7 linked regions of the Homo sapiens genome follow. The protein of the gene in region 5 purifies or fractionates together with the protein of the main gene of each other region. This does not show direct contact. Each region holds a gene or a part of one and is shown on either strand. Other genes may lie near its edges. The genes, in order: PPM1G, INPPL1, TRIM25, TARS1, TPD52L2, GABPA and CTH.

Region 1 (3,500 bases), on a different chromosome or scaffold from region 5:
TCTGGTCAGCTACCTTATGGTGTGCCTCAATTTTATCCTCTGTGATGTGGAATTACAATATCCACCACATCCACATCATCACAGAACTGTTGTAATGATGCAAAACACATAAAAGCCCTTTGTAAACTGGAATTTGCTACATAAAAATATATATATATATACACACACACATACACATATATGTATATTCTGCTCTGAAATTTAGCACCCATTTCACATTTTTCTTTTTTGTTCTTTTTCTCAAAGAGGACCACCCACAATAAAGATTCGTCTTACACCTTGAGGTCTCAGTCCTGAGAACTATCGCACAATTACCCTCTCCTTCACTTCTTGGTGAGGCTTGGGATCTATATTATGATTTGGAACTGTTTCACCTTCCCTAAACACTTTAATTTGCCCCCTTTACATGTCTGCTCATAACCTTTACCCACACCTTTGCTTCTCTCTATCCCTTACTGAGACAGAGCCAAGTATTTCAACATGGTCTCTTAGAAATCTAGAAAAACTCACCCAACCTTGTATAACCCCACCAACTGATTTATGCCTGAATCAGAACTACTAAGTTTGCTAGTCATAAAATGTTATGAGATTGGCTAGGTGCGATGGCTCACACCTGTAATCCCAGCGCTCTGGGAAGGTAGGCAGGAGGACTGATTGAGATCAGGAGTTGGAGACCAGCCTAGGCAACATAGCAAGACCCCGCCTCTACAAAAAAATTTTAAAGTTAGCCAGGCATAGCAGCATGCACCTGCAGTCAGTCCTAACTACTCGGAACACTGAGGCAAGAGGACCACCTGAGCCCAGGAGGTGGAGGCTGCAGAAAGCTATGATGCACCACTGCACTCCAGCCTGGGTGACAGAGGGAGACCCCATCTCTAAAACAAAACAAAGTTATAGGATCACATTGACTGTGGTAATTACTTCATTTCAGCATCTTGTTTTCTTTTTTTTTTGAGATGGAGTCTCCCAGGCTGGAGTAGAGTGGCGCGATCTAGGCTCACCATATCCTCCACTTTCCAGGTTCAAGCAATTCTCCTGCCTCAGTCTCCTGAGTGGCTGAAATTACAGTGGGCACCTGCCACCACGCCCAGCCAATTTTTGTATTTTCAGTAGAGACGGGGCTTCACCATGTTGCCCAGGCTCTTCTCAAACTCCTGAGCTCAAGTGATCTGCCCAGCTCGGCCTCCCAAAACGCTGGGATTACAGGCGTGAGCCATTGCAACTGGCCAAACACAGAAATTATCCTCTCTTCCTAGATTAACATTTTTTCTTAAACTCCTGATCTCAAATCCTTCTCCTTCAAGGTCTTACTACACAGAGAATGTAATAACCTTAACAGCAATCCAAATAGCCGTTTTGGCAATGGCTCATGCATGTAATCTCAACATTTTGGGAGGTCAAGGCAGGAGGACTGCTTGAGGCCAGGAGTTCAAGCCTGGGCAACATAGTGAGACCTCATCTCAACAACAACAACAACATCCGTAAACAGCCATTCTGCAGACTTCATTTCCCCTAGCCATTATGTCAGATTAAACAGTACAAACCATGTCAGTTTTTTTTTTATTTTTCAATGTTTATTTTAGAATCACAGAATACATGTGTAAGTTTGTTAGAAAGGTATACTGTGTGATGCTGAGGTTTGGGGTATGACTGAACCCGTTTCCCAGGTGCTGGGTATAGTATCAAATAGGTAGTTTTTCAGCTGTTCCTCTGCCACACAACCCCCACCCCCACCCTGCCGCACCACCACCTCTAGTAGACCCATGTCTATTGTTGCCATCTTTACATCCATGTGTACTTGATGTTCAGCTCCCACTCTCACTGCGTGAGAACACGCAGTATTTGGTTTTCTGTTTCTGTGTTAGTTTGCTTAGGATAATGCCCTCCAGCTACATTCATGTTGTTGCAAAGACATTATTTCATTATTTTTAATGGGTGCATAGTATTCCATGATGGCTATGTACCATATTTTCTTTTCTTTTCTAGTCCGCCACTGATGGGCACATGAGTTGATTCAATGTTTTTGCTATTGTGAATGGTGCCACAATGAACATACAGGTACATATGTTCTTTTGGCAGAATGATTTATTTTCCTTTGGCCGTATATCCAGCCATCAGATTGCTGGGTCTAATGGTAGTTCCACTCTTAGTTCTCTGAGAAATCTCCAAACTGACTGTGCCTACGCTAAATTAATTTACACCTTCACCAACAGTGTACAAGTGTCTGCTTTCCTCTGCAGCCTCACCAACGTTTCTCATTTTTTGACATTTTAACAAAAGCTGTTCTGACTGGTGTGAGATGGTATCTCTTTGTGGTTCTAATTTGCATTTGTCTGATGATTAGAAATGGGCGTTTTTTCATGTTTGTGGGCCACATGTACGTCTTTTGAGAAGTATCTGTTCATGTCCTTTGCCCACTTTTTAAGGGGGTTATTTGCTTTTTGCTTGTTAGGTTCCTTATAGATTTTGGATATTAGACTTTTGTTGGATGTATACTTTGTGAATATTTTCTCCCATTCTATAGGTTGTTTACCCCCTTGATAGTTTCTCTTGCTGCATGTCACTTTTCTTGAAAGATCTCTTGGATTCTGTGTAGTTCTATACCTCTGACTGCCTGTTTCTACAGGATGTTCTTTTTTTCTTTCTTTTTTTTTTTTTTGAGACAGAGTCTAGCTCTGTTGCCAGGGTGGAGTGCAGTGGCGCGATCTCGGCTCATCACAACCTCTGCCTCTCGGGTTCAAGCAATTCTCCTGCCTCAGCCTCCTGAGTAGCTGGGATAACAGGCACGCGCCGCCACGCCCAGCTAATTTTTGTATTTTTAGTAGAGACGGGGTTTCACCATGTTGGCCAGGATGGTCTCGATCTCCTGGACCTCGTGATCTGCCCACCTTGGCCTCCCAAAGTGCTGGGATTACGGGTGTGAGCCACTGCACCCGGCCAGGATGTTCTTTCTCTCTATACCTCAAACTTAACACATGTAATCAGGAAATCAGCAGTCTGCAAAAAAAAAAAAATCAAGAGCTTCCCCTACAGGTCTTATTTCTGTAAATGGAATCTTAACTCTCCCAGACAACACTTAATACCAGAGTCATGCTTAACTTCCTGGCTGTCTTCCACCATCCATCACTGAGTCCTGCATGCAGTCCTTCATCATGTTGTTGTTCCTGGATTACTTTGTTTTGTTGGTTTGTTTTGTTTTTTTTTTTTTTTTTTTTTTTTGAGAGAGAGAATGTCTCCCTGTCACCCAGGCTGGAGTACAGTGGCATGATCTCAGCTTACTACAACCTCCGCAGCCCAGGTTCAAGTGATTCTCATGCCTCAGCCTCCCAAGTAGCCGGGATTACAGGTGTGTGCCACCATGACTGGCTAGTTTTTATATTTTTAGTAGACACGGGGTTTCACCATGTTGCCCAGGCTGGTCTCAAACTCCCGACCTCAGGTGATCCTCCCGCCTCAGCCTCCCAAAGTGCTGAGATTTAGGCATGAGCCACTACGCCAGC
Region 2 (3,500 bases), on a different chromosome or scaffold from region 5:
CCCTGGGAGCACAGCTTCACTGGCTTTTTCTCTGGTCCCTGAGCATATCCTTTGGGAGATCTGACCTGAGTCCTTCATGCCACGAGAGGAACCATTTCTCTCCAGTCCGTCAGGAAGAGGGGTGGCAAGCCTTCCTACCCTGTGATGGACACAAAAGTCTATTTATAGTGCAGGGGGAAATGCAGGCAGTGGGTGCAGCAGGGCAGTGGTGACCATGCACTCTCTACCCAGATTGCCATGCAATCACTGTGGAATATCAAGGTGGCAGTGCTGGTCAAGCCAGAGCACGAGAACCGTATCAGCCATGTCAGTACGTCCAGTGTGAAGACTGGCATCGCCAACACCCTGGGTAAGTGGGGCTGGCAGGTGCCCAAGAGTGGCAGCGTCTCTCTGTCCATGGCTTCTGCTTCCTCTCAAGCCTAGGATTGCCCCATTTTTGGTGATCTTAGTTTCCCCATATATAGGGTACTTTGAACTTTGAAAAACATATTCATATTCTAAATCTCTCCCAGCACCACTGGGAAGGCAAGGCCAGGATAATTACCCCCTTTTCACAGATGATAAAACTCAAACCCAGAGTGGTTGAGTGACCTGCCCAAGGTCACACAGCAAGTAAGTGGTGGAGCCAGGCATTGTGCCCAGGTCTCCTGATTTTCGGTCTGGTGCTCTCCCAGGTAGATTCTGCGCAGAATCTGCAGGGCCTTTCAGCTTCACCCTTGGGGTCCCCTGTGATCTCCAGGGGCTCTGCTCACACATACAGACAGACTCAGGCCATCCACACAGACCATGTGTGCCCAATGAGGACCCCCCCCTCCCCCAGGGAAGGTGTGGGTGTGTGCAGGGGCCTGCCCATGTCACAGCGTCTGGTGGGCTCAGCGGGAGGATCCTCTCACTGCAGCTTTGAGAGGCAGAAGGGAGAGTTGGGAGCCCTCTGAGGATGACCCAGGCCTTCCTCTCTTGCTTGCCTTAACAGGGAACAAGGGGGCTGTGGGCGTCTCCTTCATGTTTAATGGCACCTCATTTGGCTTTGTGAATTGTCACCTCACCTCGGGAAATGAGAAGACGGCTCGGTGAGGGGGCGCCTTTCCCATGGTCTCTTTACACCCATCCCATTCACCTGAGGCCTGTTCCCGCTCCCATACCCTAGCCCATGACCCTCCCGCAGGCCTGTCTCCAGAGACCCCCTGCTCTCTTATCCCAATTCAAGACCCTTCTGTTCCTGACCCTAACCTTGTCCCCAGGGGCCCGGATCTTTACCCCATCCCTGACTCCTGAGACTTCTTCCCTTTATGCCTATCCCTGACTTCTGGCCCTGACCCTGGGGATCTACCCCTCCCCACCACGCACCCCTCACCCTAGGAGGAACCAAAACTACTTGGACATCCTGCGGCTGCTCTCGCTGGGCGACCGGCAGCTCAATGCCTTTGACATCTCTCTGCGTTTCACACACCTCTTCTGGTTTGGGGACCTCAACTACCGCCTGGACATGGATATCCAGGTGCGAGCAGGGCCCTGCCATGGCTGTAGGGAGGCTAAGGGCCACATGGGCTATCACCCCTGGCTCTGGCTCCGGAGGAATGTTTCTAGCCTTTGTGTCCTCCACCCCAGGAGATCCTGAACTACATCAGCAGGAAAGAGTTTGAGCCCCTCCTCAGGGTGGACCAGCTCAACCTGGAGCGGGAGAAGCACAAGGTCTTCCTTCGATTCAGTGAGTGTGGGCCTGGTAGGTGGTGATCTGAGGGCTAGGAGACTTGCAGTATCCCTGGGTGTCAGGGCCCTGAACCCCACCTGTCTCCTGCTTTCCTTAGGTGAGGAGGAGATCTCCTTCCCACCCACCTACCGCTATGAGCGGGGTTCCCGGGACACATATGCCTGGCACAAGCAGAAGCCAACTGGGGTGAGCCAAGAAAACGGCATGGGCCTTGGGGGACCGCAGGCCTGCGATGAATCAAGAATTTGGGTCAAGGGTATGGGCCTCTGCAGCTTCCACTCCAGCCTCCATGGCCCCTCTGAGGCCTTTGGGTGATCCTGGGTATTTTGAGGATCCAAGAAGGGAGGTGGGTGCTAGGGCCTCTAGTAATAGAAGTGTGGGGACTCATCAGCTCTGGAGTGGGGTCCATGCCAAGCAGCCTCCTAGCTGTCAGCTCTAACCATGCTGCCATCCCCTGCCCCAGGTCCGGACCAATGTGCCCTCATGGTGTGACCGGATTCTGTGGAAATCCTACCCTGAAACTCACATCATCTGCAATTCTTATGGTCAGAGCCTCCCGGACAGAGTGATGGGAGATCTGGGGTGGTCACCATCTGGACTCTGCCCTAACCTTGGGAGGTGGGAGCCGAGGGTGGGAATATTCCCCCTGAGTCCCCATTCCTATCCCCTCTCCCCAGGTTGCACTGATGACATCGTCACCAGCGACCATTCCCCCGTGTTTGGGACATTTGAGGTTGGAGTTACCTCCCAGTTCATCTCCAAGAAAGGTGACTGTTCCAGATATGCTTGTGGGTGTGGCATAATCTAGGTGGGCACAGGTGGTGGCCTCGGGATGTACATAGGTTTGACTATGTAAGTGTGTGTGTGGGTGTGTGTACCAGTGAGTGCAGGAGTGTTTCTCAAGGTGTGATGTGTCAGGGTGTCTGTGCGCCTGGGCCATCACAAGAGTTGTGTGCCCATGAGTGTGTGTGCATACGTGAGTGTACACCTATCTATGTGTCTGTGTCTGTCTAGGGCCACGTGTGTGTCCCTGAGTATGCCTGTAGGTGTGGGAATCCTGCAGGCATTCTGGTCCCCAGCACCCTCTTCAATGGGTTTTTTATCCTTGGGTTGTCTCTTTGCTCTGGTCCAGGGTCTGGCCTCTGGAGATTCCCTGTTGGTGGCTTGGGACTGGGGAGGCCCCTCCTGGCCCTGCCTCCTTGCTCTGGACCCCTGATTTCCTGTCCCAGGGCCCTGTTTCTCTGTCCCATTCCTCCTGTGATCCTCTCAGTCCTCCTGTTTGTTCTCCTCCCTTTCTCCTCAGGGCTCTCAAAGACTTCAGACCAGGCCTACATTGAGTTTGAGAGCATCGAGGCCATTGTGAAGACAGCCAGCCGCACCAAGTTCTTCATCGAGTTCTACTCTACCTGCCTGGAGGGTCAGAGGCGTGGCAGGGGCTGGGTGTGGGCCAAGGAGGATGGGAGGCAAGAGGGTGCAGTCAGCCCCCTACTTAGGGGGAAAGGAAGCTGAGAGGTGGTGCTCAGTTGGGTGTCTCCCACCCCCACCCCAGAATACAAGAAGAGCTTTGAGAATGATGCCCAGAGCAGTGACAACATCAACTTCCTCAAAGTGCAGTGGTCTTCACGCCAGCTGCCCACGGTGAGGCTGTGGGCAGGGCCCCTGCTTATGGGTGAGGGCACAGAGAGGGGTACATAAGAGTTTATTGGAGAGCCTGCCTGGGAGGGAGTGTGGGGCCAGCAGAGAGAGAGAGAGAGAGTGTGTGTGTGTGTGTGTGTGTGTGTGTGTGTAT
Region 3 (3,500 bases), on a different chromosome or scaffold from region 5:
TCTGAGAGAATAAATATGTGTTTTTTGAAGCCCCTACATTTGTGGTAAGTTGTTGCCCAGCTCAGAAAACTAATACAGCGTGTGTCTCAGGGATGCTTCCAGTGACCTCTTCCAGTCTCCCGCTCCTTGAGGGCCCTATCATCAACAGCATGACATCAGGCAAAAAAAAAAAAAAAACATTCAACAATGCCTTGTGGCGACCTACCTCCAGAAACTCGAACTCATCCCTCTTGGTCAGGCTCTGTTCAATCTCCTCCTTCAAGGTCTGGATCTCACTCTTCTTCTTGAGGAGAATCTGATAAATGGTGTCAAACTTGCTGTTGACCCTCTTCTCCTCTTCCTTTATCTTCCTTGTCGAGGTGGTCTCTGAGGCGTCCAAGAGAGCCTTCATTTCCGTGTATTCTTGTTGTAGCTGCTCCACCTTTCTGTTTGCAGTCATCTGAGAGGGCCAAGGTAAGAGGATGCCCGTCAAAGGGGCAAAAGTGCTAAGGCTGCAGCCCCAAGCATGGGTGAGATGTGGAGTTCCAGGAACTCTTACCTGTACTTTGTGGGAGAACAAACCACTGTGGGGAGCAACTTGGCAATATCTAATAAATTTGGAGGTGCTCATAGGCTATGACTCGGCAACTCCAGTCCTAGGAATATGTGCTACAAAAAATTGCAGCCACCTGCCCCTGAGACATGCATAAGAATGTTCACAGGCAGCATTGTCTGAAGTAGCAAAAACCTGGAATCAACCTGAACATCCATCAGAAGAAGACTTGAAGCAAAGACTGGGAGCTATTCATAGGATGGAATATTAAACAGTTATGAAAATTAATAAACTGGAGCTATGCCTGGATAAATCTCCATGAGAGAAAAACAACTTGCAGAAGAAGATCCACCATATGATGCTCTTTCAATAAAGCTTAGAAACAAACAGAATGGCTATATGCACAAAGAAACGCATGGGAATGAATAAATAAATTCAGGAGAGTGGTTACTTCTGGAAGAGAGGAAGAGGGATAGAATAAGGGAGAAACAGATGGGAGGGGCTGCATCGATGATATTTTATTTCTTAAGCTAAAGGTGGTTCATGGGCAATTTTTAAAAATAAAAGTCAGCAAGAGATCAAGACCATTCTGGCCAACATGGTGAAACCCCATCTCTACTAAAAATACAAAAATTAGCTGGTTGTGGCAGCGCGCACCTGTAGTCCCAGCTACTCAGGAGGCTGAGGGAGGAGAATCGCTTGAACCCAGGAGGCAGAGGTTACAGTGAGCCGAGATCGTGCCACTGCACTCCAGCCTGGGAGACACAGCGAGACGCTATCTCAAAAAAATAAAATAAAATAAAACAAAACAAAAAGTCAGGATGCAGCTCTGGAAAATTTCTAGAGAATATCATGCTCTAGGATTGTACTTTCCAATAACATAGCCACTTGCTACATGTGGCTACTGAGCACTTGAAATGTGGTTAGTCCAAACTGAGACTTGCCATGAGTGTAAAATACATACTGGCTTTCAAGGGTTTCACACCAAAAAAAGGAATGTAAAATATCTTAAAACTTTTAAATTGATGATATGTTGAAAGAATAATATTTAAGATATACCAAATTAAATAAACTATAATATTAAAATTAATCTCAGTCAAGTGCAGTGATTCATGCTCATAATCCCAGCACCTTGGGAGACCGAGGCAGGAGGATCGCTTGAGGCCAGGAGTTCAAGACCAGCCTGGGCAACATAGACAGACTGTTTCTCTACAAAAATAAAAATAAAAAAATTAGATGGACTGTATTCCTGGAGAGTGGGGGTGGTGAAGGGGAGTAGGCTCAGTCAGGAAGATTACTTGAGCCCAGGAGTTCAAAGCTGCAGTGAGCTATGATTGTTCCACTGCACTCCAGCCTGGGTGATAGAGTGAGACCTGTCCTAAAAAAGATAGATAAATAAAATACAATAAATCTCATGTACTATTCAAATTAACTTAAAATGACATCTGCACTCCTACTGTATTTCTGCTGGACAGCACTGCTTTAGTAGCTGCAATTTTGTTTCACATCTTGGGTAGCCTCAATAGCTGCTATGGTTTGAATGTCTCCTCCAAAGCTCATGCTGAGATTTAATTGCCACTGAGGTGATTAGATCACGAGGGCTCTGCCCTCATGAATGGATTCATATTCTTATCACAGGGTTTGACCTCCTTCTTCCTGTCCCGCTCTCCTGCCTTCCATCCTTCCGCTATGGATGATCCTCACCAGATGCTGGAAGCATGCTCTTGGACCTCTCAGGCTCCAGAACTTTGAGCCAAATAAACTTCTCTTCTTTGCAAATACCCAGTCTGTGGTATTCCGTTATAGCAGCAGAAAACAGACTAAGACAATAGCTCAGAATCAAACATAACAAAGAGAAAAACACACAAGAAGGACAGTAGACTGGAAAAGAGGAATTCAAGTATTTCTTCGCCAATATTTTTTTTTTTTGAGATGAAGTTTCACTCTTGTCACCCAGGCTGAAGTGCAATGACATGACCTCGGCTCACTGCAACCTCTGCCTCCCGGGTTCAAGTAATTATCCTACCTCAGCCTCCTGAGTAGCTGGAACTATAGGCATGCACCACCACGCCCGGCTAATTTTTTGTATTTTTAGTAGAGATGGGGTTTCGCCATGTTGGCCAGGCTGGTCTTGAACTGCTGACCTCAGGTGATCCATGCGTCTCGGCCTCCCAAAGTGCTGGGATTACAGGCGTGAGCCATTGCGCCCAGCCTTCTTTGCCAATCTTTCACTGTGCAACTTCTAATGTGACTACAAGTGTCCCCCAGTGTTCATTTTCCCTTTTTTCCTTTTGGTAAGAGAACATCCCTGGAGTTTCATCTGGGCGTGTGGCTACTCAGACTACATTTCCCAGCCTCCCCTGCAGCTAGACTAGGCGATGTGACAAAACTCCTTCCAGTGACCCATGCCCAGGAGTGATATGTGCAACACTGTGTCACTTGTGTAAAGGAAAATTGCTTGTTGTCCTCCACCTCCTTTTTGTCCCTTTGTCACAGGCTAGAACAAAGATGTAATGGTAACCCAGCTTCAACCAAAGAGGCTGGGACAATACCTTGTGGAATAGTAGGGTAATAAGAAGGGAGAACCCTTAATCCCTGAATGATCACATGAACCCTTAGTCTGGGTTACTCATGTGTGGGTTTGGACTGTCAGTTGGTAAAATAAACTTCAATCATATTTAAGCCTCTGAATTCTGGTGTATCTTTGTTACAGCAGTATAGCCTGCCCTCTAACAAATACAGGTACTTTCACGTGCATTCTTTCATTTGTCTCACAGTCATCTTCAGAAAGAACTTGTGATTCCATTGTGCAAATTGGGAAACGAAGGTTCAAAGATCTGTCAACATGACCAAAGCAACATAAACTAGTATGTGACAGAGCTGGTATTCTAACCTAGATCTCATCTAATGAAACCATAACTGCTGCAATAAAACTGGTGCTGCAGCTCTGAAAAAGGGTAAAAATCTG
Region 4 (3,500 bases), on a different chromosome or scaffold from region 5:
ATTAGCCAGTCATGGTGGCGCACACCTGTAGTCCCAACTACTTGGAGGCTGAGGTGGGAGGATAGCTTGAACTCGGGAGGTGGAGGTTGCAGTGAGCCAAGATTGAGCCACTGCACTCCAGCCTTGGTGACAGAGCGAGAGTCCGTCTCCAGGGAAAAAAATAAAAGGTTGAATTACATAAAACATTGATGGGCTTTAGCTCTGGAGTTAAGTCACTGATCTGCACTGAGAATACTTTATGAAATTTTTACAAAAGTCCAGAATAACTTTTTGTTCTGTGAAAAATTATAACATTGATAACAGGCTATTTAAAGATTCACATAATTAGTGGTGAATATGAAAGGGAAGGACAAAAAAGACATGTTCCATTTGCGTCAAAAGGTTTTTCTTTGAAGTTTTGTTATAAATCTTTTTTTTTTTTTTTTGAGACGGAGGAGTCTCGCTCTGTCGCCCAGGCTGGAGTGCATTGGCGCCATCTTGGCTCACTGCAAGCTCCGCTTCCTGGGTTGACGCCATTCTCCTGCCTCGGCCTCCTGAGTAGCTGGGATTACAGGCGCCCGCCACCACGCCTGCCTAATTTTTGTATTTTTAGTAGAGACGGGGTTTCACTGTGTTAGCCAGGATGGTCTTGATCTCCTGACCTCGTGATCCACCCGCCTCGGCCTCCCAAAGTGCTGGGATTACAGGCGTGAGCCACTGCGCCTGGCCGTTTTGTTACAAATCTTAAAGATTATTTTACCCTTCTTTGAAAAATTGAAATGATCCAGTATGGCCCATGTGTAATCTACATTTTCAGAGTAACTCTATTCTTAGAATCTTGGGGCTCCATATTGGATCATAAGATAAAAGTCATGTTCTTCCCAAAGAATATAGAGAATATGATTATCCTTTTTATCAGTTCTTTAATCTCCTGAAAACTGTTTTACACCAATATGATGAAATACATTTCTCTCTGCCAAATTCATGTTATGTTTTGTGAAATGCATGTATTTATTTTATTGACTCCATCTGATCTCAGGAGGAAAGAAAACATTGTTTATAACCTATGGTAAAGTTAGTAGGAGCATTGAAAATAGAAAGGAGTTTGTTGTTTACTTTCTGTTTGGTTCTTTTCTCTTGATCCTCAGATAGGAGTTGTATACATTTTGTTGTAAACCCTTAGACATAGAGAGCCACCAACACAGCAAGCCTGGCTAGCTTAAAGCCTTCTAGTGGTAGGTTTCTTTGAGATTTACAGTGTAAAGGGTGTATACTTTTTCTTCACAGTGTAGAATGTTGCCTACCTTCGTTGAGATGTCCAGGCTGTTATAGACTATTATTTCTCTAGCTGTGCATTTAGATGTATAATCTGGCTCACCTACTCAACTCTGCTCTAGTCACACAGCTTCCTGCAAAAACCTCTCTTCACTTGCATCTCTGCTTGCATCTGTGGCCATTCCCTCATCTGGAATGCCATGGCCTCCTCTTTTCTTCCTGTGAGTGCTTTATCCTCAAAGCCTTTCCAGATGACTCTGACCTGTACTGCTTTCCCTCCTCAGAACTCCTGTAGCTTTTACACTCTGTGTGCTCTGATATTTCATCACTTGATGATACTTTATGTTCGATGTTGTATATTGGGTGTGTAATGTTTTTACTCACATTATATGGAAAGTTTTATTAAATAGTCTTTCATTTTACCTCTATATTTGTTATAAATATTATCATAGGCATTTGCAGAATTTATTCTGAGGTTAGCATTGTCTGTCAAAGAAAGGATCTGGTGTACATTTTAAGCAGGAAGAGGAACAGAGAAGTTATTTAGTAGGCCTTTTTTTTTTCCTTTGGAGTCTACATAGCTTAGCTTTGTAGAAAGAGAAAGGTGGGTGTATTAAGAGAAAACTCGGTGTGGTGACTTGTGCCAGTTGTCCCAGCTACTCTAGAGGCTGATGTTGGAGGATTGCTTCAGGCCAGGAGGCCAGCCTGCGCAACATAGCAAGACCCTGTCGCTAAAAAATTAAAAAAAAAAAAACTTATTTGTTGGAGAAATTAAGATTATTCAAACCATTGGAAATTGATAGTGCTTATTTATCAGAGTTGCCATATCTGCTTAAACAGGAGGCATTCAATGTCAAATGATAATGTTCTGCATTTTCAGGATCTTCCAGTTAGGTTCTTAGGTACATTTTTGGAATTTGTTGTTTTTATCATTATATTTCAGAAAAATAGAGATACATCAATATAAAAAAACAATATATAATAAAAATAGTGTTTATTTTCCTGTTTTCAAATTAGATTCGTGTGTACTTATATATGTGTGGACTTTTTTTTTTTTTTTTTTTTTTAAGTCAAGGCCTGGCCGACAACACCGTTATTGCTAAAGTAAATAATGTTGTGTGGGACCTGGACCGCCCTCTGGAAGAAGATTGTACCTTGGAGCTTCTCAAGTTTGAGGATGAGGAAGCTCAGGCAGTAAGTTGCTGATTAGTATTCATTGAATTTTAGGATGCAGATTCACATTTGAAGTCTTTTCCAGCTCAGTCCTGCTGCGATTGGGTGGCTAACATTTATTGTTGTCTCACTGTCATATTTGAAATCTTCATTTTGTCCTTCATTTAGGGAACATAATAAAAGTGCTTGCCTTAGAAAATAAAGGGGTGAAGCTGAATAAGTCTTTTCATTACTAGACACTTCAATAGGGAAAATGTTTTGGGAATTGTATTAAACATTGATTAAGCAAGTAAAAATTGTTTTCTAAACTGTGAACACTATTTTATTTTAATTTTTTTTTTTTTTAATGATGGAGTCTTGCTTTGTCACTCAGACTGTAGTGCAGTGGTGCGCTCTTGCCTCAGTACAACCTCCACCTCCCAGGTTCAAGCTATTCTCCTGCCTCAGCCTCCCAAGTAGCTGGGATTATAGGAGCGCACTACCACACTTGGCTAATTTTTGTATTTTTAGTAGAGATGGGGTTTCACCATGTTGGCCAGGCTGGTCTTGAACTCCTGACCTCAAGTGATCTGCCCACCTCGGCCCCCCAAAGTGCTGGGATTATAGGTGTGAGCCACTGTGCCTGGCCTCTAAGCTATGAACACTCTAGCAAGATATGTACATTTGACAAATAAATTTGAACCTTACTTCAAAGCACTGCCTTTATTGGATAATTTCTGTATTTTTTTCTCATCTTAAGATGCAAATCTGCTGGATAACACTATAAAAGTCAACCTGCATGTGATGACAAGATTTTCTTTTTAATTCTCCATGGCTGTGTATCATATAAGGGGAGACAAAGTATTTTGTTTTAGTGATGATTGTTCACTTATGTATGTGGATTAGTGGTTTTCAAATGTATTTTGGAGCCCTCAAGTTTCTTACGAGAATTTTTTAATGTCACTTTGGTACCTTAATACTAAATCTTGAAAACATTGCTTTGGGTGTATTCTGACTCATCCCAGTGATTACTTTAAAACCAAGTACTGCCATTTGATTTCAGTGTACAGATGTTTGTCCTCGTGTTTTGTCAT
Region 5 (3,500 bases):
TCCAGGGCTCTCTTCCTAGAAGGTCTTAGGAACTCCCAAATGGGTGCTGGCTGGGGTTGCCCGGCCCGGTGCTCTCAAGGAGAGCTGAAGCTAGTTATTGGGTGCAGATGCTGGCTCTGACCCCTGCCCCTTCCTCCCGGGCTCAGCTTCCCCATCTGTCATGGAGTAATAACAACCCAGCCTTCTGGTCCACTGAGGAATGTGTGTGCCTGTGTGTTTGACGCTCTCAGAACAGGCCTGCAGCGCTGTGAGCCTTGGAAGGGGGCCTCACAGCTGCTGCCGCCACCTTGGAGGCCCAGGATGGGACTGAGAAGGGGAAGGGAGAGGTCAGAGCCACAGCTGTTGGGCAGGGACCTGCTGTAGGAAGAGAAGGCCAGGGAGGCGCTGGTGGTGGCCTCAGGCTATGCAGGTGATGCCCATTGTTTCCAGGGCCATCCCAGTTTGGAGGTTCCTGTTTCTAGAGGAGGTTCCCTTGTGACCCCCTCATTTCCACACCCGAGCAATGCTGAGGGCTGTGGGGCCCCCAGGGGCTTGAGTGTGGTTTATGGCACAGCAGGGACTGATCACAGTGGCACCGGGTGTCAGTGGCCAGTGGTCAGTGGCCAGGAACCCTCAGGACCCTCCTCCTTGTGTGGGTGGCATTTACCCACCCACAGGTCACGCTCAGGACCCGCATCTCATTCCGATCCTCCTTGTGTGGGTGGTACTTACCCACCCACAGGTCACGCTCAGGACCCCACATCTCATTCTGAAGGCCGGGCACAGGCGGTTGTTTTCTCTCCAACTTCGGTTTCCCCATCCCCACTCTTAGGGCACAAATGCAGGTGTAGCTTCCCCATGCCCACTCTTTAGGCACAAATGCAGGTGTAGCTTCCCCATCCCCACTCTTAGGGCACAAATGCAGGTGCAGCTTCCCCATCCCCACTCTTAGGGCACAAATGCAGGTGCAGCTTCCCCATCCCCACTCTTTAGGCACAAATGCAGGTGCAGCTTTCCCATCCCCACTCTTAGGGCACAAATGCAGGTGCAGCTTTCCCATCCCCACTCTTAGGGCACAAATGCAGGTGCAGCTTCCCCATCCCCACTCTTAGGGCACAAATGCAGGTGCAGCTTCCCCATCCCCACTCTTAGGGCACAAATGCAGGTGCAGCTTCCCCATCCCCACTCTTTAGGCACAAATGCAGGTGCAGCTTCCCCATCCCCACTCTTTAGGCACAAATGCAGGTGCAGCTTCCCCATCCCCACTCTTAGGGCACAAATGCAGGTGCAGCTTCCCCATCCCCACTCTTTAGGCACAAATGCAGGTGCAGCTTCCCCATCCCCACTCTTTAGGCACAAATGCAGGTGCAGCTTTCCCATCCCCACTCTTAGGGCACAAATGCAGGTGCAGCTTCCCCATCCCCACTCTTTAGGCACAAATGCAGGTGCAGCTTCCCCATCCCCACTCTTAGGGCACAAATGCAGGTGCAGCTTCCCCATCCCCACTCTTAGGGCACAAATGCAGGTGCAGCTTCCCCATCCCCACTCTTTAGGCACAAATGCAGGTGCAGCTTCCCCATCCCCACTCTTAGGGCACAAATGCAGGTGCAGCTTCCCCATCCCCACTCTTTAGGCACAAATGCAGGTGCAGCTTCCCCATCCCCACTCTTAGGGCACAAATGCAGGTGCAGCTTCCCCATCCCCACTCTTTAGGCACAAATGCAGGTGCTGTGAGCGCTTTAGAATCCTCTGCTGCAGGTGACTTTGCTTCAGCGAACCACAGAATGTTCACATGGTTTTATGCATTTGTTATTTCAGGGAAAATCAAGGTTAAAGATGTCTTCAGAATTTGTATTTTTGGGCTGGGCACGGTGGCTCACACCTGTAATCCCAACACTTTTGGAGGCTGAGGCAGGCGGATCACGAGGTCAGGAGATCGAGACCATCCTGGCTAACACGGTGAAACTCCGTCTGTACCAAAAATACAAAAAAATTAGCCGGATGTGGTGGCGGGCGCCTGTAGTCCCAGCTACTCGGGAGGCTGAGGCAGGAGAATGGCGTGCACCCGTGAGGCAGAGCTTGCAGTGAGCCGAGATGGTGCTGCTGCACTCCAGCCTGGGCTACAGAGCAAGACTCTGTCTCAAAAAAAAAAAAAAAAGAATTTGTGTTTTTGAAACTAAATATAGCAGGTCATTAGTTACTTATAACTGGTGTTTTATTAATAAAAGAAGAAAAAATTTAAAAACAGCCATGATTCCAGCTGCACGGAGCCTGGATGGGAAAGTGCATCCTCTGGGCTGAGCACGGTGGCTCACACCTGTCATCCGAGCGGGCTGGGCGCAGTGGCTCACACCTGTCATCCCAGCACTGCGGGAGGCCGAGGCGGGTGGATCACCTGAGGTCAGGAGTTCAAGACCAGCCTGGCCAACATGGTGAAACGCTATCTGTACTAAAAAGACAAATTTAGCAGGGCGTGGTGGTGGGTGCCTGTAATCCCAGCTACTTGGGACGCTGAGGCAGGAGAATCTCTTGAACCCGGAGGCGGAGGTTGTAGTGAGCTGAAATTGCACCACTGCCCCCCAGCCTGAGTGACAGAGCGAGACTTTGTCTCAAAAAAAAAAAAAAGAAAGAAAGTGCATCCTCTGGTAGGCCTTGGGCCGGGGGCGGGCATGAGAGAGCTGCGCTGGGATGCGCTGCCAGGGCACACTTGGTGGGTCACACACTCTTGTCAACTGTTTGGGGGCTGGAGAGTAGTAGCACTCAGCTCACACGGGCCTTCTGCAGGGAGTGGTGGGAGGGCCTGTGAGTAAGGGCTCCGGAAGGCCCATCATTGGGACCTGGTGCCGCCAGTGGGAGCAGGAGGAGCCTGTGCCTTCTCTGGCGCCAGTCATCCCAGATGCCACTCAGGGCTTGGCTGGGTTTGCCAGCTCTCCAGGTTGGCACTGGTAACGCCAAGATGGTCCTGGGAGCCCATCTCCATTCAGCCTCGAGTTCCCTGGCTTCACTGAGGGAGGAGCCGTGATAAGGTGGCTGTGGGTTCGCATTTTGGACTTTGTTATGTCAGAGTCTGCTGTGTTTTGTGTTTATGGTGGCAGCTGGATGAGGGCCAGCGACTTCAGGTGTTGACTGTCATGGTGGGCCCAACAGTATCCCTGCAGCCACAGCATCCTGCCTGCTGCCCTTTGCCTGTCCTGCAGACGCCAAGGCCCTAGAGCTTTGCTTTGATGGGATGTACCCATGTGGGTGGACACTGGAGGGAGCTGGAGGGGATAGAAGCGGGGCCTTCACTAGGGGCCAGGACAGACCCTTGCACTGTGAAAAGAGGCCTGGGAATGGAACTGTCCGATGTTCTGAAGGCACACGGGGCCCCGCCGTCTGGAGCAGGGGCACCTTGCGGGCTGCATGGCCACTCTGTGACGCTCGTTCCCCACAGACGTGGTTGAGCTTGCATTTTCTCCCCTCAGCACAGTCTCATTTGGGAAGAGGAAAGGGAAACTTGCACGCATGGGCCGGTCAGGGCA
Region 6 (3,494 bases), on a different chromosome or scaffold from region 5:
AGTCAGGACACCTGAAGATTAGCAAAGTGGAAAGACTTGTCCCACAGGATATTGAGACTGACTCTAAAGTTACAGTAATAAGACAGTTATGCTATTTTCTCAAGACAAATAGGCCATACAGTAGAATAGGGAGCCAAAATAGAACCAGGAATATGTAAGCATTTGATTTAAAGAAATGGCAGTGGGGAGAAAACATATGAGGAAACGACCTGCTTTTCAATAATCAGTGCTGGGATAATTTACTCTCCATCTCTGGGGAAAAGTAAAAGTTGACCTCTTGCTTATGCCGTACCAAAAATCAATTCCATGTAGCTTGTAGCTCTACATGTAAAAAGTAAAATAGAAAAGGATCTAGAAATACTTTCATAACTTCTGGTGGTAGGGAGACATTTAAACAGAATCAAAAGGACTAATTCTAAAGGGAAAGATCAATAAACTGGACTATATTTAAATTAGGAATTTCTGTTCGTTGAAAGCCTTATTAAGAGAGCCACACATGTCGGACAGAAGTATCTAGAATATCTAACCAATTCTTACAAATCAATTTTTTAATGGGCAAGAGACTTGAATAGACACCTCAGGCTAGAGATTATCCAAATGGCCAATGAATATATGCAAAGGTGTACGGCCTCATTAGTATTCAGAGTAATGCAATTGAAAACCATAATTAAATGGTACAACTCACCCCCTAGAGTGGCTACAATTTAAAAGATTGCCAGAACTAAGCTCTGTTGAGGATATGGAGCAATGGGAATGCTTCTACCCTTTTGATAGGAATGTAAATTGTAACAGTTGCTCCCCTAAGCAACTGTTTCATACACATCAAACAGAGATGTACTTCTATGCCCATACACATGTTCATAGCAGATTATTTATAACATCCAAACCCCAGAAACAACCAGATATCTATCAACAGTAGAGTGAATGAATCATTTATGGTATATTCATACAAGAATACCTTGCATTCTTGAAAACTAAGCTCCTGCTACAAACAATGACCAGTGAACCTCACAAACATAATGTTCAGTGACAGAATCCAGACCCAAAAGACCAAATTCTGTATGATTACATTTATTTAGTAAAGTTCAAAAAACAGGAAAATTAAATTTCAGTATTTAGGGATGCATGTTTGGGTGATAAAAATATAAAGAAAAAGCAGTCAAATTACTATCATGATACAGGCTTGTGTTTACCTTTTAGAGCCAGGATTTGGGGAGTGATTGGGAGGGGACATAAAGGGGATTCTAGATGCTGGCAGTGTTCTGTTTCTTGACCTGAGTGATACTTAACAGGTGAGTGAATGTTCACTTTGTAATAAATCACTGAACTGTTCACTTCTGTGTCCTTTTGTTTGTGTGATATATTTGCAATTAAAAAGTTTAAAAAAATACAAGTTTAAAAAAAAAGAGGGAAGAAAAGAAATCATATCCATGAAATACAGGTATTGTGTATCTTTCATTTTAGGGAGGCAACAAGTGGAATAAATGCTACTATATACAGTTGTGTGATGCATCTACTAGATCAAAAGAAGTATTCAGTAAAATTCAAATTTATGTGTGTATATTCTTTTTTATCACCTCTTACCAAGAAATATGATTATGCCAACTCCATTTTCCTCCTAGAATTATAAAACCTCTTTCCTTTTCCATTTTCCTTTTTTTCCCCACGTATAGTCTTACATATTAATGTAGAAATTTTTTAAAGCAATTGATATGCCTATAGCATTTTTAACTGGATGGCAAGGAATTGTTGGTTTATGAGCTGAAATCCAAATTCTGTACTAATGTAATTGACATAAATGGAAACTACAAGACTGCCCAATGTGTTATATCTCTTACTGGGAAATCAAACATAACTATTTTTCTTTTGCTATTCTGGAATTAGGGAAAGATGACAATTTCCTGTATATAGGTCAGTCCTTTCATTAATAGACTCTTGATTAAGCCAAGTGACTTTTATCCTGCTAAATGTGATAGTTTATATCTGGTACTTTTGCAAATAGTTGTTTCTTTTATAATAGCCCTTTGTCAGTGGGCAGTGCAATTTTAAAATAAGGGCTTTGCAATCTGCCAGTCGTGGAAAGAGCTTGACTTGCCTCTTTTTCCTGTTGTTGGAATTAGCAATACATAGTGTGTGTTTAAATAAAGTCTGTTTTCCAAAGGAAACATAAATCCAGCTCCATTTGCATCTCTATAGAATGCAGCAGTAAACTAGATTTCTAGAATGATTGCCGGAACTCTGCTTGTGTACGTTTAGAAACATTGTCTCTTTGCAATGTCCTTTACCTGTTTTTCTGTATCCTCTGTTTCTTTTAGACCTTTTCCTTAGACTTAAAGCTCCCTATTGGGCTTGGATAATTTATCTGAAATTTGGAAAGCGTTTACATAGTGAAATAATAAAGATGAAGACATGACTTCATCATATAGGATTCTTTACAAGACAGAAAAGAAGTGGAATATATGTATTAATTTTTTTTATATTATCGATTTTTATTAACATAGCTTATATTTTGTAGAGGGCTGTGTGCCAGTCATTGTATACTAAGCACTTTACAAAGATTATCCCTTTAATCCTCAACAATGATATGAGGGTATAAGCACTGTTAACCTCACTTTATAGATGAGGAATAAAAGCTTTGAGAAAATATGACTCCTGTGGTCTCAAAAATGTTAGGTTTTGAATCTTGGCTTTCTGACTCCAAAGCTCTTGTTCTTAGGCTCTTCTACTGCTCTCAAGGTTTTTTGTTTTGTTTAATAATTATTTTTAAATCAATGTTTTATTCTAATTGTTGAAAATATGTTTTGAAAGTTTAATGTATAGAGTTTTGGAGTAGTGAGCATTGAAATTTTAGTAAATAATGTTGGGATGTTTCATTTGATAGTAGCATTAAATATTCTACATAGCTTCAATATTAATTGCTATTGTGGCGGATGCAGTACTCTACTAGGCTTCTGCTTATGGAATAGTCTGTAAATTATTGTAAGAAGTCTCATTTTTTCTGAAGTCTCTAATTTTTTTTTCTCTTTTTGAAGATATTATTACGATGGGGACATGATTTGTAAAGTTCAAGGCAAGAGATTTGTGTACAAGTTTGTCTGTGACTTGAAGACTCTTATTGGATACAGTGCAGCGGAGTTGAACCGTTTGGTCACAGAATGTGAACAGAAGAAACTTGCAAAGATGCAGCTCCATGGAATTGCCCAGCCAGTCACAGCAGTAGCTCTGGCTACTGCTTCTCTGCAAACGGAAAAGGATAATTGAGCCCCAGGACATTCTGAGACTCCAAAGTCTTTCTTAAAATGTTTAGAGCAAGTATAGCTCTTACCTTTATTACTGAATTTGAATCTTCTTTTATTTCTAGGCTGTACAGTCTGATGCATGATTTTTTTATAAATATTTCATACTCTTGTGAATTTGGATCTTTTTACTTTGAGCATATATTTTAGAATATGTGTATGTTAAAGGATCTCCACAATGTCTGCAGTGTGAAGGCA
Region 7 (3,500 bases), on a different chromosome or scaffold from region 5:
GGGTACAAAGTTACAATTAGAAGGAGGAATAGAGGAATAAGTTTTGGTGTTCTACTGCACAAAAGGATGATCATAGTTACAATAAGATACTGTATATATCAAAATAGGAGAGAGGATTTTAAATGTTTCTACTACAAAGAAATGATAAATATTTGAGATGATGGGCATGCTAATTACCCTGCTTTTGATCATTACACAATTACACATGTATTGAGCATCACATTATACTCCATGACTTAAAGGATTAATTTACAGGAAAATTGGGTGAAAGAAAACACTTTTAAAAATTCCTTTTCATTTTTATTTTTCTTAATTCTCCCAGTTTCAGACATATTTATTTATTTATTTATTTATTTATTTGAGACAGAATCTTGCTCTGTCACCCAGGCTGGAGTGCAGTGGTGTCATGAAAAGCTCACTGCAACCTCTGCCTCCTGGGTTCAAGTGATTCTCCTGCCTCAGCCTCCTGAGTAGCTGGGATTACAGGTGCGTGCCACCATGCTCAGCTAATTTTTTTGTATTTTTAGTAGAGATAGGGTTTCACCATGTTGGCCAGGCTGGGCTCAAACTCATGGCCTCAAGTGATCCACCCACCTCAGCCTCCCAAAGTATTGGGATTACAGGTATGAGCCCCCGCACCCAGCAAATTTCTTTCTTTCTTGTTGTTTTTTAAGATAAAGTCTTGCTCTGTCACTCAGGCTGAAGTGCAGCGGCTTGATCATGGTCCACTGCAGCCTGAAACTCCTGATCTCAAGTGATCCTTCTGCCTCAGCCCCCTAAATTGCTGGGATTACAGGAGTGAGCCATTCTCCAACTCCCAGCCGTCTAGATTTCTTGTAATACCTAATACAATGTACATGCTTTATAAATGGTTGTTACACTATATTGTTTAGGAACTAATGACAAGAAAAAAGTCTGTACATGTTCAATACAGACACAACTGTTCATCTATTTTTCCAAGTATTTTTTTACCCATGGTTGGTTGAATCCATGGATGTGAAACCCACACATAGGAAGGGCTGAGTAATTAGGAATCAAGATCATGACAAACCCCAAATGTAAATAATCACAGCATACGTCATGAGGTTTTAATGATTAAAAATCTAAGCAGATGAGTTTATACTTACTCTACATAAAAATTGCTGAATGTTCATTTCAACTATTTTATGTGTTTAATGAGTCATAAAATACTAGAGTCTCTACTGTAGGTAATAAATTTAGAGTCCTGTCAGCAATTGCTATAAAGAAACAGGTTCAAGAGACCAGTTGACCTGGGCTTATCTGCGCTTTCCAAGAAACTTTTGCCTTCAGATTCAATACTGGATTCAATACTTTACATTTTTCTTTGGTGGGAGGGAGGCAAAGGAGAAATAATATCAGAGATCCTGGAAAATTTTAAGATGCACATACTTTTGCAAAGTTAGTATTGATTAGAATAAGAATGGAATTTATAATTGCAAATAGGCAGGTAATGAAGCATATTTTCAAATTGTTTCTCATTTAAAGTAAAAAACTTGTTCTTTCAGCGCCCTTTGGCTCTGGGAGCTGATATTTCTATGTATTCTGCAACAAAATACATGAATGGTAAGATGCATACTTTGAATGTTCTTTTTCATGGATAGGTGAAAATTGCATAGGGCTTGGCTTTTGATCCCTTTTCTTTGATTATTTTGTAGATTATTTCCTGTGACTCATAGAGAGAGTAAAAAAAAAAATCCTTTGATTAAATGTAGGATTTCATTAACAGTACACAAAACTATGCTCATGATTTATGAGAAGAGGATTAAAGTTGGCCATAAAAAGTTATGCTTTTATCTTGCTGACACCTTAAAGAAACATTTTGTTTTTATATAATTTTTATTTTCTTGTTTTAGACATAGCTTTTGCTACTGTCCAGTTGAATAAAGGTTACTTAAACTTATTTTATAGAGCTTTTTCCCTGAGAGTTTTTTCAAGTGAAAATCACATTTTGAAAATTATAAAATAAAGAGTAAACATAAATTGTTTCTAACTGAAATTTTTGTTTGTTTGTTTGTTTTTTGTTTTTAGGCCACAGTGATGTTGTAATGGGCCTGGTGTCTGTTAATTGTGAAAGCCTTCATAATAGACTTCGTTTCTTGCAAAACTGTAAGTATTAAAAAGTGCAGGTTCCCTATGACACTCTCAGTGACTACATTTGATATTTGTATTTCCACTAAGTGATGTGAAGTGATGGCATTCTAATAATTTATGAAGAAATGAAAAATAGAGGAGAAAAATTCTGATTTTTTTTATTTATTAATTTTTTTTTTTGAGATGGAGTTTCACTCTGTTGCCCAGGCGGGAGTGAAGTGGCGTGATCTCAGCTCACTGCAACCTCCACCTCCTGGGTTCAAGCGATTCTCCTGCCTCAGCCTCCTGAGTAGCTGGGATTACAGGTGCCCACCACCATGCCCAGCTAATTTTTTATATTTTTAGTAGAGACGGGGTTTCACCGTGTTGACCAGGCTGGTCTCAAACTCCTGACCTCAGGTGATCCACCTGCCTTGGCCTCCCAAAGTGTTGGGATTACAGGCATGAGCCACCGTGCCTGGCCAAAAAAATTTTTTCTGATTTTAGAGGAAAGTGTTATAAAAATAGTTATTGCAGGCTGGGCACGGTGGCTCATGCCTGTAATCCCAGCACATTGGGAGGCTGAGGCAGGTGGATCACTTGAGCTTAGGAGTTTGAGATCGGCCTGAGCAACATGGCAAAACCCTGTCTTTACCAAAAATACAAACCAATTAGCCAGGTGCAGTGGCATGTGCCTGTGGTCCCAGATACTCAGAGGCTGAGGCAGGAGGATTACCTGAGCCTGGGAGGCGAAGGTTGCAGTGAGCTGACATCGTGCCACTGCAATCCAGCCTGGGCAACAGAGTGAGATCCTGTCTCAAAAAACAAAAAACAAAAACGGTTATAGCATAGCAAGGCTTTATGATATGATATAAGAAATGAGTTTTTTTATTTTCATGTCCATCTTAATTATAATCATAATTTGATAAAGCCCTAGTGAATTTTTAGTTTCAAGACTTAATGGTTTTTTTTTCTTTTTTAAAATTACATTTGAAATGAGGGCTTTCATATACTATACCTTTTATATCACGAATGATGGTTAATTTTAAATAGCACTTACAGTATAAACTTACATTTTTCAATAGATGTCTAAACACCATTTCCTATTTACATTGCTTAGTTTATCTCCAGTATAGTTAAAGATTAAGCCATTGTAACTTGACAGGTAAAATATAAACATGATTAGGAATAAAAATGTCCTCCACAAGGGAAACTGAAACTTATTGCTTGATAAGTGTCCTTTGGTTTATAAAAAGTAGAAATGAAGTATATATCCTGGAGGCATGTGAAATCATTGACCGCTTTGCACAAAGGCTAAATAGAATATTAGTAGAATATTCAGTAATAATAGGACTTGAACTGCTGTTTTTCTCTGTATGTTAAAATAATTTTTCAAAGAAATACAAGGT

What was found.
Region 1: the proteins of TPD52L2 (region 5) and PPM1G fractionate together in Homo sapiens (co-fractionation; one large-scale study listed by BioGRID). This does not show direct contact.
Region 2: the proteins of TPD52L2 (region 5) and INPPL1 purify together in Homo sapiens (affinity purification with mass spectrometry; 2 studies listed by BioGRID and IntAct, with this or other methods). This does not show direct contact.
Region 3: the proteins of TPD52L2 (region 5) and TRIM25 fractionate together in Homo sapiens (co-fractionation; one large-scale study listed by BioGRID). This does not show direct contact.
Region 4: the proteins of TPD52L2 (region 5) and TARS1 fractionate together in Homo sapiens (co-fractionation; one large-scale study listed by BioGRID). This does not show direct contact.
Region 6: the proteins of TPD52L2 (region 5) and GABPA purify together in Homo sapiens (affinity purification with mass spectrometry; 2 studies listed by BioGRID and IntAct, with this or other methods). This does not show direct contact.
Region 7: the proteins of TPD52L2 (region 5) and CTH fractionate together in Homo sapiens (co-fractionation; one large-scale study listed by BioGRID). This does not show direct contact.

The regions. Positions count from the first base shown.
Region 1 is NC_000002.12:27,389,092-27,392,591, forward strand, and holds part of PPM1G (protein phosphatase 1G), read right to left. Parts: intron 1-3,500.
Region 2 is NC_000011.10:72,231,267-72,234,766, forward strand, and holds part of INPPL1 (phosphatidylinositol 3,4,5-trisphosphate 5-phosphatase 2), read left to right. Parts: intron 1-231; coding exon 232-349; intron 350-973; coding exon 974-1,070; intron 1,071-1,359; coding exon 1,360-1,498; intron 1,499-1,608; coding exon 1,609-1,708; intron 1,709-1,808; coding exon 1,809-1,897; intron 1,898-2,174; coding exon 2,175-2,256; intron 2,257-2,388; coding exon 2,389-2,478; intron 2,479-3,014; coding exon 3,015-3,128; intron 3,129-3,260; coding exon 3,261-3,349; intron 3,350-3,500. UniProt on the Homo sapiens protein: Phosphatidylinositol (PtdIns) phosphatase that specifically hydrolyzes the 5-phosphate of phosphatidylinositol-3,4,5-trisphosphate (PtdIns(3,4,5)P3) to produce PtdIns(3,4)P2, thereby negatively regulating the PI3K (phosphoinositide 3-kinase) pathways.
Region 3 is NC_000017.11:56,904,050-56,907,549, forward strand, and holds part of TRIM25 (E3 ubiquitin/ISG15 ligase TRIM25), read right to left. Parts: intron 440-3,500; coding exon 206-439; intron 1-205.
Region 4 is NC_000005.10:33,450,965-33,454,464, forward strand, and holds part of TARS1 (threonine--tRNA ligase 1, cytoplasmic), read left to right. Parts: intron 1-1,376; coding exon of another isoform or gene 1,377-1,475; intron 1,476-2,324; coding exon 2,325-2,448; intron 2,449-3,500. UniProt on the Homo sapiens protein: Catalyzes the attachment of threonine to tRNA(Thr) in a two-step reaction: threonine is first activated by ATP to form Thr-AMP and then transferred to the acceptor end of tRNA(Thr).
Region 5 is NC_000020.11:63,878,770-63,882,269, forward strand, and holds part of TPD52L2 (tumor protein D54), read left to right. Parts: intron 1-3,500.
Region 6 is NC_000021.9:25,765,972-25,769,465, forward strand, and holds part of GABPA (GA-binding protein alpha chain), read left to right. Parts: intron 1-3,032; coding exon 3,033-3,261; 3' UTR 3,262-3,494.
Region 7 is NC_000001.11:70,428,268-70,431,767, forward strand, and holds part of CTH (cystathionine gamma-lyase), read left to right. Parts: intron 1-1,526; coding exon 1,527-1,584; intron 1,585-2,049; coding exon 2,050-2,127; intron 2,128-3,500. UniProt on the Homo sapiens protein: Catalyzes the last step in the trans-sulfuration pathway from L-methionine to L-cysteine in a pyridoxal-5'-phosphate (PLP)-dependent manner, which consists on cleaving the L,L-cystathionine molecule into L-cysteine, ammonia and 2-oxobutanoate.